2 separate regions of the Homo sapiens genome follow, and region 1 is linked to region 2. The links come from fine-mapping of genetic effects on gene expression. A gene starts in region 2. The other region holds a variant in brackets. All regions are shown on one strand. Distances are between the middles of the regions. Region 1 holds the start of COX8A (cytochrome c oxidase subunit 8A). Region 2 holds the start of NAA40 (N-alpha-acetyltransferase 40, NatD catalytic subunit).

Region 1 (5,364 bases), 37 kb before region 2:
CCAGGAGGCGGAGGTTGCAGTGAGCCGAGATCACACCACTGCACTCCAGCCTGGCGACAGAGCGAGACTCTGTCTCAAAAAAAAAAAAAAAAGCAAGCAGCCAGGCGCAGTGGCTGACACCTGTAGTCCCAGCACTTTGAAAGGCTGAGGTAGGAGGATCACTTGAGCCCACGAGTTCAAGATCAGCCTGTCCAACATAGTAAGACCCCATCTCTACAAGAAAATGTTTTAAGAAACTAGCCAGGTATGGCTGGGCGCAGTGGCTCATGCCTGTAATCCCAGCACTTTGGGAGGCCGAGGTGGGCGGATCACGAGGTCAGAAGTTCGAGACCAGCCTGACCAACAGGGTGAAACCCCATCTCTACTTAAAAAAAAAAAAAAAAACCATTAGCCGGGCATGGTGGCGAGCGCCTGTAATCCCAGCTACTCAGGAGGCTGAGAATCACTTGAACCCGGGAGGCGGAGGTTGCAGTGAGTCGAGATTGTTCCACTACACTCCAGCCTGGGCAACAGAGTGAGACTCAGTCTCAAAAAAAAAAAAAAAAAGATGAAACTAGCCAGGCATGGTGGTAGCACATGCCTATAGTCCCAGCTACTGGGGTACAACCTGTGGTGGGAGGATCGCTTGAGCCTGGGAGGTCAAGGCTGCAGTCAAAGTCAAGGCTACAGAGCTGTGATTGCGCCACTGCAGTCTAGCCTCAAAAAAAAAAAAAAAAAAAGCGGGGGCACGGAGCGGTCTCTCACGCCTGTTAATCCCAGCATTTTGGGAGGACGAGGAGGGTGGATCACAAGGTCAAGAGTTTGAGACCTGGCCAACATGGTGAAATACCATCTCTACTAAGAATACAGAAATTAGCCAGGTGTGGTGGCATGTGCCTGTAATCCCAGCTACTCAGGAGGCTGAGGCAGGAGAATTGCTTGAACACCAGAGGCAGAGGTTGCAGTGAACCGAAATCACACCACTGCACTCCAGCCTGGGTGACAGAGCAAGACTCTGTCTTGAAAAAAAAATTAAAAAGGCAAGATTGCCAGGCGCAGTGGCTGTAATCTCAGCACTCTGGGAGGCCAAGGTGGGTGGATCACTTGAGGTCAGGAGGAGTTCGAGACCAGCCTGGCCAACATGGTGAAACCTCGTCTCTACTAAAAATACAAAAAAAAATTAGCCGGGCGTGGTAGTGGGTGCCTGTAATGCCTCAGGAGGCTGAAACAGCAGAATCCCTTGAACCTGAGAGGCGGAGGTTGCAGTGAGCCGAGATCGCATCACTGCACTCCAGCCTGGGCAACAGAGCAGGAGTCAGTCTCAAAAAAAAAAAAAAAAAAAAAAAAAAGCCAAGATTCTGCAAAGTCCCTACCCCCAATTAGGAAGGGCACCAGCACCTAAGAAATGAAGTCCACCAAAAAGGAAGACCAGAGAAGGCTGGCCCCTTAGAGGAAAGGCTTCTAGCTGAAGATCCAGCCCCAGTGGGACACACACACACACACACACACACACACACACACACACACACAGACACATACACGCCCATTGGGCTTTGCACAAACAAGGGAGCTGGAGGGGATGAGCCAGAAAAGCTGCACAATGACAACAGGCTTTGTCTTCCCAGGAAGCCAGGCACCATTTAAAGGTACAGAAGCACACGAGGAGTCCAGCTGAGGCACACAAAACCTACCACAGGGCAGCCAGCCGGGCGCTCTTCTCCACACCTCCACCCAGTGCCAGTGGAGGCATGAGCCCAGGCAGGAGGGAAGGCACAATGAATTTCTGAAGTAAAGTTTAAATAGATTTTATTGTTACAAGGGGGACCCCACCAAGCAGGGTCAGTGACCCCCAAGGAGGTCACCATGGAGACATCAAGAGGTCATGATTGCAGAAGAGGTGACTGGAATTGAATGACATGATCCAGGGGAGGCCGGCCACAAATGCAGTAACATGACCAGGATGGGCCGGTGGGGCTGGTCAGGTCACAGTGTGAGGGACAGAACGGACCCCTTCACTCTGGCCTCCTGTAGGTCTCCAGGTGTGACAGGATCCAGCCCGCTGGCAGGAGGAAGGTCACGAAGCAGGAGGTAAGCCCAACGGCCAATTCCTACACAGAGCACAAGAAAGAAGGCACCTCGGAGTCAGTATTCCCCTAGGCTCTCTAAGTCCTTGCAGTTCCCAGGCAGCAGAAAGCCCCGCTCAGGGAGCCAGGACTCAGAGGCAAGTGGGAGGCCCCGCATCCTCACGTTAAAGGAATCCACGCTCCACGGAGCAGACAGAGCAGGTCCAAAGCTACGCTAACCCTTGAGGTAAAGGGTCAGTTATAAGGAGGGGGAAGAGTGAGAGGAAGGAGAGACAGCTGGGGTTAGGGTTCAGGGAGAAATGCACCACCAGATGGTAAAGGAAGGGACAGGAAGCAGGATTTATTGAAACCTGTTTTAAAGCTGGTCTGGGCCGGGCATGGTGGCTCACACCTGTAATCCCAGCAATTTGGGAGGCCAAGGCGGGCGGATCAC[A/G]AGGTCAGGAGTTAGAGACCAGCCTGACCAACATGGTGAAACCCCGTCTCTACTAAAAATACAAAAAATTAGCCGGGAGTGGTGGCGGGCGCCTGTGATCCCAGCTACTCGGGAGACTGAGGCAGGAGAATGGCTTGGCTTAAACCTGGGAGGCGGAGGTTGCAGTAAGCCGAGATCGCACCACTGCACTCCAGCCTGGGTGACAGAGCAAGACTCCGTCTCAAAAAAACAAACAACAAACAAAAAAAGCAAAGCCTGTATGTTAAGACCCAGGATCCTTGCATGGGCCAGTAACTCCAAAACGATACCTATCCTTCCTTGCCTGAAAACCCCCTCCCAGGCCGGGCGCAGTGGCTCACGCCTGTAATCCCAGCACTTTGGGAGGTTGAGGCAGGCGGATCACGAGGTCAAGAGATCGAGACCATCCTGGCCAACATGGTGAAACCCCGTCTCTACTAAAAATACAAAATTTAGTTGGGCATGGTGGCACGCGCCTGTAGTCCCAGCTATTCGGGAGGCTGAGGCAGGAGAATCGCTTGAACCCGGGAGTCGGAGGCTGCAGTGAGCCGAGATCGCGCCACTGCACTCCAGCCTGGCGACAGAGCGAGAACCCGTCTCAAAATAAATAAGTAAAATAAAATAAAATAAAATAAATAGCAGTAACAACCATTTTCGTCGCTGACAGCGTCAGGCATCCCCCAGTGAACCAACGAGAAAATGGGCTCAGAGCGGCTAAAGAAGTCGGCAGGAGGCGGCGCAGCGAGGAGGCGACAGGAGAGGGAGGGCCTGACAGGACCAGACCCGAGATCCTGGGGCTGTGGGGAAAGACCTAACGCCGACAGCCCCGACTGTCGCCCGGGCACTGTCCCCGTCGTTCGCGCCCTCCAGACATGCCCAAACCGGCACTGCTGCTCCCCGCTACGCTGCGGGGCGCGAGGCATTCTCAGGACCACCTGAGGTCAGCTAGGCAGAAGGGGTCAGCCCACGGCGCCTCCCGCGCTCTTCCAGGCCCGTTCCTCACCATGATCCCAAGCTTCCCCTCCGGCGGCAACGAATGGATCTTGGCGCGCGGCACTGGGAGCCGCCGGGCCGAGCCTGTCAAGCCCCGCAGCAGCAGCGGCGTCAGGACGGACATGATGGCACGGAGTACACCACAAAAAACGGTCAGCCGTAGCCCAAGGTCAGGAAGCCAAAATGGCTGCGCTGGCCGGAAGTTCTGGAGCTGGGGAAGCAGGGAAACTGCGGCGCGGAAGTCTCTCGGAAATGACGCAAGAACACACCTCCCACAGCCCTTGGCAGTTTTTGGCGCGTTCCTCGAAACAGCCAATTGACACCTTCCTACGCTATGGGCGGAGCACAAAAGGGCTCTTCTTCGAGTTATGTTCCGCCTCCAAGGCTTATACTTGTGAATGACATCTGGGGCCACCCAATCATGTACGCGAGAAGCCTAAACTGTTCTTGACTCCTCCCTTCATTCATACTGTTAAATCTCTCTCTATTCAGGCTGGGCGTGGTGGCTCACGCCCGTAATCTCAGAACTTTTGGGAGGCCGTCTGTACTAAAAAAAAAAAAGTACGGGCTGGGCGCGTTGGCTCACGCCTCTAATCCCAGCACTTTGGGAGGCCGGGGCGGGTAGATCATCTGAGGTCAGGAGTTTGACACCAGTCTTGCCAGCATGGTGAAACCCCATCTCTACGAAAAATACAAAAATTGGCCGGGCGCAGTGGCTCACGCATGTAATCCCAACACTTTGGGAGGCCGGGGCCGGTAGATCATCTGAGGTCAGGAGTTTGAGACCAGTCTTGCCAGCATGGTGAAACCCCATCTCTACGAAAAATACAAAAATTGGCCGGGCGCAGTGGCTCACGCTTGTAATCCCAACATTTTGGGAGGCCGAGGCGGGTGGATCACCTGAGGTCAACAGTTCGAGACCAGACTGGCCAACATGGTGAAACCCCGTCTCTACTAAAAATACAAAAATTAGCTGGGCATGGTGGTGGGCGCCTGTAATTCCAGCTACTCGGGAGGCTGAGTCAGGAGAATTGCTGAACCCAGGAGACGGAAGTTGCAGTGAGCCGAGATTGAGCCATTGCAGTCCAGACTGGGCCACAAGAGCGAAACTCCATCTCAAAAATAAAAAACAACAATAAAAAAAGTTCGAAAGCAGCCTGGCCAACATGGTGAGACTCCATCTCGACTAAGAATACAAAAAATAGCCAGGCATGGTGGTAGATGCCTGTAATCTCAGCTACTAGGGAGGCTGAGGCAGGAGAACTGCTTGAACCCGGTAGGCAGAGGTTGCAGTGAGCTGAGATCACGCCACTGCACTCCAGCCTGGGCGACACAGCAAGACTCCGTCTCAAAAAAAAAAAAAAAAAAAAATCTCTCTATTGAGAGTCCCCTCCTCTCCACCAGGCCTCCGTCGTTTTTGTTGAGAATTCCTGACACTGACCTAGTAACCAAACCTCCCTCAATTACTATTACACTCTTCAATTCCAGTTACCATGCTGGAGCAGCCAACTTCCCTTCCTTCCTACCCTATCACTCTCTCTCCCTCCCCCATCCCTTCCTTCTTGGTTTTTTAAACCTAAATCTGACCAAGTCATATACTTTCAGTGGCTCCCCATTGCTTCCTAGTCAAAATCCCAATTCCCGGATGTCACTGTCCAGCCTCAACTCTCAAAACTCTTCAATATTCCACACCTTCGACCCTGCTCTCTGATTTCCACCAACAAGCCTTTTGTTGCATTCAAAATGCACTCTGCATTTTGTTATTGATGTTGAGACAAGGTCTAGCTCTAAGCCCAGGCTGGAGTGGAGTGTGGTGTGATCTCGGCTCACTGCAGCCTTGCAACCTCCACCTCCCAG
Region 2 (5,364 bases):
AAACACATCTGTAAAGTATAAGATTGAGGCCCTAAAGGAAGCAAGGATCGCAGAATCTCTGGGGCATATTTCTTTTTTCCTTCACCCTGTCTTATGGTGTTGAGGGCCTGCTATTTCAGTCCAACCAACGAGGAAGTGTTGAACTAGAACGGCATGTTACACTTCTTGTTTTCTGCTTAATCCGCAGTGGCTGCTTCTGGTTAGACAGTTACTAAGGGACACAGGTTTCATTTAGTTTCAACAATGGCTGTGTCTAGGACCTTTCACCAAAATTTAGGTTAAATATGCCTAAGGTCTCTAGACTTGGTTTTCTACATATGAAGTACGTAATACCCAAAACTATTTGTTAAAACACGATGACTGTTTTGACACGGATTAGACAACTATTTTTGTCTAATAAGTTGATTTGTTCAGTCGATAAATAGTGGAGTGACGGGAAAAAAAAAAACTAGGTTAACAACAGTAGGGACAAACCCAATGGGTTAAAAATAGCACAAATCCATTTTAGATCAGTAAAGTTAAGGCTGAGGATACAGACAAAAATAACAGCCACTACTTAGGAGACACCTCCTTAGCAATCTACATCCATTATCTCACTTAATCTTCACTACTACCCTAAGGGGGAGGTATTAGCATCCCAATTACAGAGGTGAGGAAATTCAAACACATAAAGGCCAACTCACTGGCACACTATTATACCACCAGCAGCGAAGACGGGGCTGGAAGTGAGGTACCTCGGGCTCCAAAGTCAGGGTTCCCTTAAGGTGATGGAAATTCCATGTAAATACTAATATAGGCCTGTGTGGTGGCTCACGCCTGTAATCCCAGCACTTTGGGAGGCCTAGGCGGGTGAATCACGAGGTCAGGAGTTCGAGACCAGCCTGGCCAACGTGGTGAAACCCTGTCTCTACTAAAAATACAAAAATGAGCCGGGCATAGTAGCGGGCGCCTGTAATCCCAGCTGCTGGGGAGGCTGAGGCAGGAGAACCGCTTGAACCCAGAAGAAGGAGGATGCAGTGAGCCGAGATCGCGCCATTGCACTCCAGCTTCGGCGACAAGAGCAAAACTCCATATCAAAAAAAAAAAAAAAAAAAAAAAAAAAGAATACAGCCAATACTAGGAAAAGCGTTATCTTTTTAGGAGGGTGACTGATACTGCTGTAATTGAGACTTAGTAAGGTGAACGCACAGAAACTTGCAAATAACTTCTGCCCTACCCTATATCCCGGGAAAGTAAACTAAAATGCACCTCCAGGCTGCCGGCACGGAACAAGTGGTCAATATCCATCCGCGGCTGGGCCGCCGCCCCCGCCTCCCCGCATCTTCCCCGCACACCTGCACAGCCCTCCCCTTGCAAAAAACACCTGCACTACCAAAACCCCTAACAACCCAAGCGGTCGTAAGAACCATTTCATTGCAACCAGGAGGCGTCGAAGGCAGGAGTCTATGGGAAAGGAAGGCTGTGTTTATCAGGAGCAGCAGGAACCTGGTGGAGAGGTTTCGAAAGAGTGTAGGGGAACCGGCTTCGCTGAGACTCGAGTAACGGGAAGGGCAGTGGACTGGGATTCGGGAGGCCCAAGGTGGGGTCTGACGCCCCCGACAATATGACCTTGGCTAGGCGCCTTCTTTCCTCTGGGCCTCAATTCCCTCCAAGCCAGGGTTGACCTCGGATGTGAAAAGCGACGAAGCTGGTGACAGCCAGGTGATGAGTGACCCTGGGGGAGCGGGAAGCTAACCCCAGGGTCCCCGCGGGGGACGGTGGTGGGGAGGCCAGTAACGGGTCCGCGAAGCAGGAAGGGGCGGGCGTGACGCTGGGGGCGCCGAGGGGGTGGGGCCCCGGACCAGGGGCTCTCCAGAGGATTCCCGGGCTAGGCCTAGCGTAGGGACCCTTAGAATGGGGGAGTCGGGTCATGTGGGGGTCAGGGGTCACGTGAGGCTGGAGGGGGTCGGGGTCACGTGAGAGGGGGGTTTAAGAACAAAGGGGGCGAGGGTAGCGAGGAGCGCCCCTGGACCTCCCATCTCCTCTCTCTGCCTCACTCACCCCCATAGCGGCGGCGACAACGCTCAGCTTCTTCTTCACACACTTGCCGGCAGGGAGGCGGCAACGGCGGTGGCTGCAACAGCGGCGGCAGCAGAGCGGACGGCCCTGCAACGCGCATGCGCCTCGCAGCTTCCCCCCCCCCCCCCGCCCAACCGCGCGCCCTCGTACCGCGCCGGCGCAGAACCGGCGCAGGGCAGCGGTGAGCCGGCGCGCAGGTGGAGCGCCCGCTAGGCTGGCCGAGGGTCTCCGACCAGGAGGAGGCGGGAGCGCGGAGGAGCGTCGCGCCGGGAATGACGTGCGGCCAGAGCCCGCCCCCTCGCAGGGCTGCGTCTGTAACTATGGCAACGGCGGCGCCAGGCCTGGCTGCTCACCCAGGCCGTGAGTCGCGCGCCGCTGGGGGCCGGGTGGTTGGCAGCACCTCCCCTGCGGCCAGCGACTCCTTGGCCCCGCGCGTAGCAGCCGGCGGCACAGCCACCTTCCCAGGCGGCCAATCGCGTCTCGACCTCTAAAGTACCTGCCCCTCCAGAGCCCTAGCGCGCGTAGCGGAAGTCTTTGGAAACTTTCCCACCTTCCAGATCTTGACTCTTGAAATTCCTTTTCTAACCAGAGTCCTGTTACTCATTCATTCGTCTTCTAACCATTCATTCCCCCTCATTCATTCACGTTCTCAATAAAAATTAACTCGCATCTACGCGGTGCTGAGCCCAGGGGGCACAGAGAGGAGCGAGGTGCCATCTCAGCGCCACACCTCAGGGTTTAGAGGGGAGACGGGCACGTAAGCACTGTTTAGGAGAGAGTGGACAGTGCTGTTAGCGTGAACACCAGGCATCCCGGAAAGTTTTAATTTCAACCCATCCCCAGCACACCGGAGTGACCCGCACGTGACCCGAATCCAAACCGCCGGGGGCGCTTCCGCAGTGTGCACACCTCTGCCAACCTCCCCCAGAATCTCCAGGGGTGGAGCCAGAGTCTTCACTTCCTAGTGCTCCCCAGGTAGGGAGCGAAAATTAGTGAAATGCTTCAAGACGAAAATTAGTGAAATGCTGCCCAACACTTAAGCTTCATGGACTTTTTCAGGTTTTGCTCATTATTCCATCTTTTTGTTTTTTTAAGAGACAGGGTCTCGCGGTCGCCCAGGCTGGAGTGCAGTGGTGCAATCACAGCTCACTGCAGCCTCGACCTCCTGGGCTCAAGCGATCCTCCCGCCTCAGCCTCCTGAGTAGCTGGGACTACAGGTGTGCACTACCATACGCAGCTCAATTTTTATTTATTTTTTGTTGAGATGGGGTCTCACTGTGTTACACAGACTGGTCCCAAACTCCTGGGCCCAAGCGATCCTCCCACTTTGGCCTCCCAAAGTGCTAGGATTACAGGCGTCAGCCACTGTGCTTAGCCTCATTATTCCAACTTTAGTGCTCAGTACAGTGGTGGCCTCAACAACATTTATCCAGTGCCTACTGTATGCTAGGCACTGTTCCAAGCAGCAAGGAAAACAACAATAAGAAACAGAATAGGCACCACCCTTGTATCCTAGAAGGAGGAGACCGATAATAGATGAAATAAATAGGTAATATACATAGTTAGTTAAATGATACAGGCTCGGCCGGGCGCGGTGGCTCACGCCTGTAATCCCAGCACTTTGGGAGGTAGAGGCGGGCGGATCACGAGGTCAGGAGATCGAGACCATCCTGGCTAACACAGCGAAACCCCGTCTCTACTAAAAAAATACAAAAAATTAGCCGGGCAGGGTGGCGGGCACCTGTAGTCCCAGCTACTCGGGAGGCTGAGGCAGGAGAATGGCGTGAACCCGGGAGGCGGAGCTTGCAGTGAGCCGAGATTGTGCCACTGCACTCCAGCCTGGGCGACAGAGAGAGTCTCAAAAAAAAAAAAAAATGATACAGGCTCTAGAAGGAAGAAAAAGCAGGGAGAGAGCACAGGGAAGGTCAAGATTTATAGTTGTGGCCTGGCGCAGTGCCTCACACCTGTAATCCCAACACTTTAGGAGGCTGAGATGGGCGGACTGCTTGAGCTCACGACTTTGAGACCAGCCTGGGCAACAGAGTAAGATCCTGTCTCTGCAAAAAAATTTAAAAATAAAAAAAAATTAGCCAGGCGTGGTGGCGTGTACTTGTGGTCCCAGCTACTCTGGAGGCTGAGGTTAGAGGATTGCTTGAGCCCGGGAGGTGAAGGTTGCAGTGAGCCGATAGCGCCACTGAACTCCAGCCTGGGTAACAGAGCCAGACTCGGTCTCAAAAAAAAATAAAATAAATAAAAGCTTGGCGCAGTGGCTCACACCTGTAATCCCAGCACTTTGGGAGGCCGAGGCAGGCAGATCACGAGGTCAGGAGATCGAGACCATCCTGGCTAACACCATGAAACCCCATCTCTACTAAAAATACAAAAAAATTAGCCGGGCATGGTGGCAGGCGCCTGTAGTCCCAGCTACTCGGGAGACTGAGGCAGGAGAATGGCATGAACCGGAAGGCGGAGCTTGCAGTGAGCCAGGATCGTGCCACTGCACTCCAGCCTGGGCAACAGAGCGAGACTCTGTCTCGAAAAATAAAATAAAATAAAATAAAATAAAATAAAATAAAATAAATAAAAAAGGCCGGGCACGGTGGCTCACGACTGTAATCCCAGCACTTTGGGAGGCCAAGGCGGGAGGATTACCTGAGGTCAGGAGTTCAAGACTAGCCTGACCAACATGGAGAAACCCTGTCTCTACTAAAAATACAAAATTAGCTGGGTGTGGTGGCACATGCCTGTAATCCCAGCTACTCGGGAGGCTGAAGCAGGAGAATCACTTGAAGTGGGGAGTCAAAGGTTGCAGTGAGCCAAGATTGTACCGTCGTACTCCAGCCTGGGCAACAAGAATGAAACTCCATCTCAAAAAAAAAAAAAAGAGAGAGATTTATAGTTTTAACTAGGATGCTCAGGAAAGGCAAACATGAGGTGATACTTGAGTCAAGATCTGAAGGTGAGGGAGCAAGTAATGAGGACGTCTGGGGAAAGGGCATTGCAGGCAGAGGAGGTCCTAGAACCACCCTGGCTTCTGGGTTGAGATGAGAATGTAGGGACAAGGTCAAAGGAAGGACAGTCCAGGCTGGGCAAGGTGGTGGCTCATGCCTGTAATCCCTGCACTTTGGGAGGCTGAGACAGGCAGATCACTTGAGGTCAGGAGTTTGAGACCAGCCTGGCCAACATAGTGAAACCCCATCTCCACTAAAAATACAAAAACTAGCCAGGCGTGATGGCAGGTGCCTATAATCCCAGCTACTCGAGAGGCTGAGGCAGGAGAATTGCTTGAACATGGGAGGCGAAGTT

The links. PIP is the estimated chance that this variant, and not a neighbour inherited with it, causes the effect.
Region 1: its variant is fine-mapped to the expression of NAA40 in whole blood (TOPMed, PIP 0.90).

The regions. Positions count from the first base shown.
Region 1 is chr11:63,972,948-63,978,311 of GRCh38, reverse strand. It overlaps COX8A (cytochrome c oxidase subunit 8A), which reads right to left and starts at 3,692. Exons shown (of 2, transcript NM_004074.3): 1 at 3,518-3,692; 2 at 1,769-2,087. The coding sequence starts at 3,631. The coding sequence ends at 1,992. RefSeq lists enhancers at 364-1,041, 3,339-3,778. The variant A/G (reference allele first, on the strand shown) is at 2,497.
Region 2 is chr11:63,935,779-63,941,142 of GRCh38, reverse strand. It overlaps NAA40 (N-alpha-acetyltransferase 40, NatD catalytic subunit), which reads right to left and starts at 2,141. Exons shown (of 8, transcript NM_024771.4): 1 at 2,041-2,141. The coding sequence starts at 2,046. RefSeq lists silencers at 2,035-2,220, 2,150-2,229, 2,490-2,539 and enhancers at 2,260-2,399, 2,638-3,138.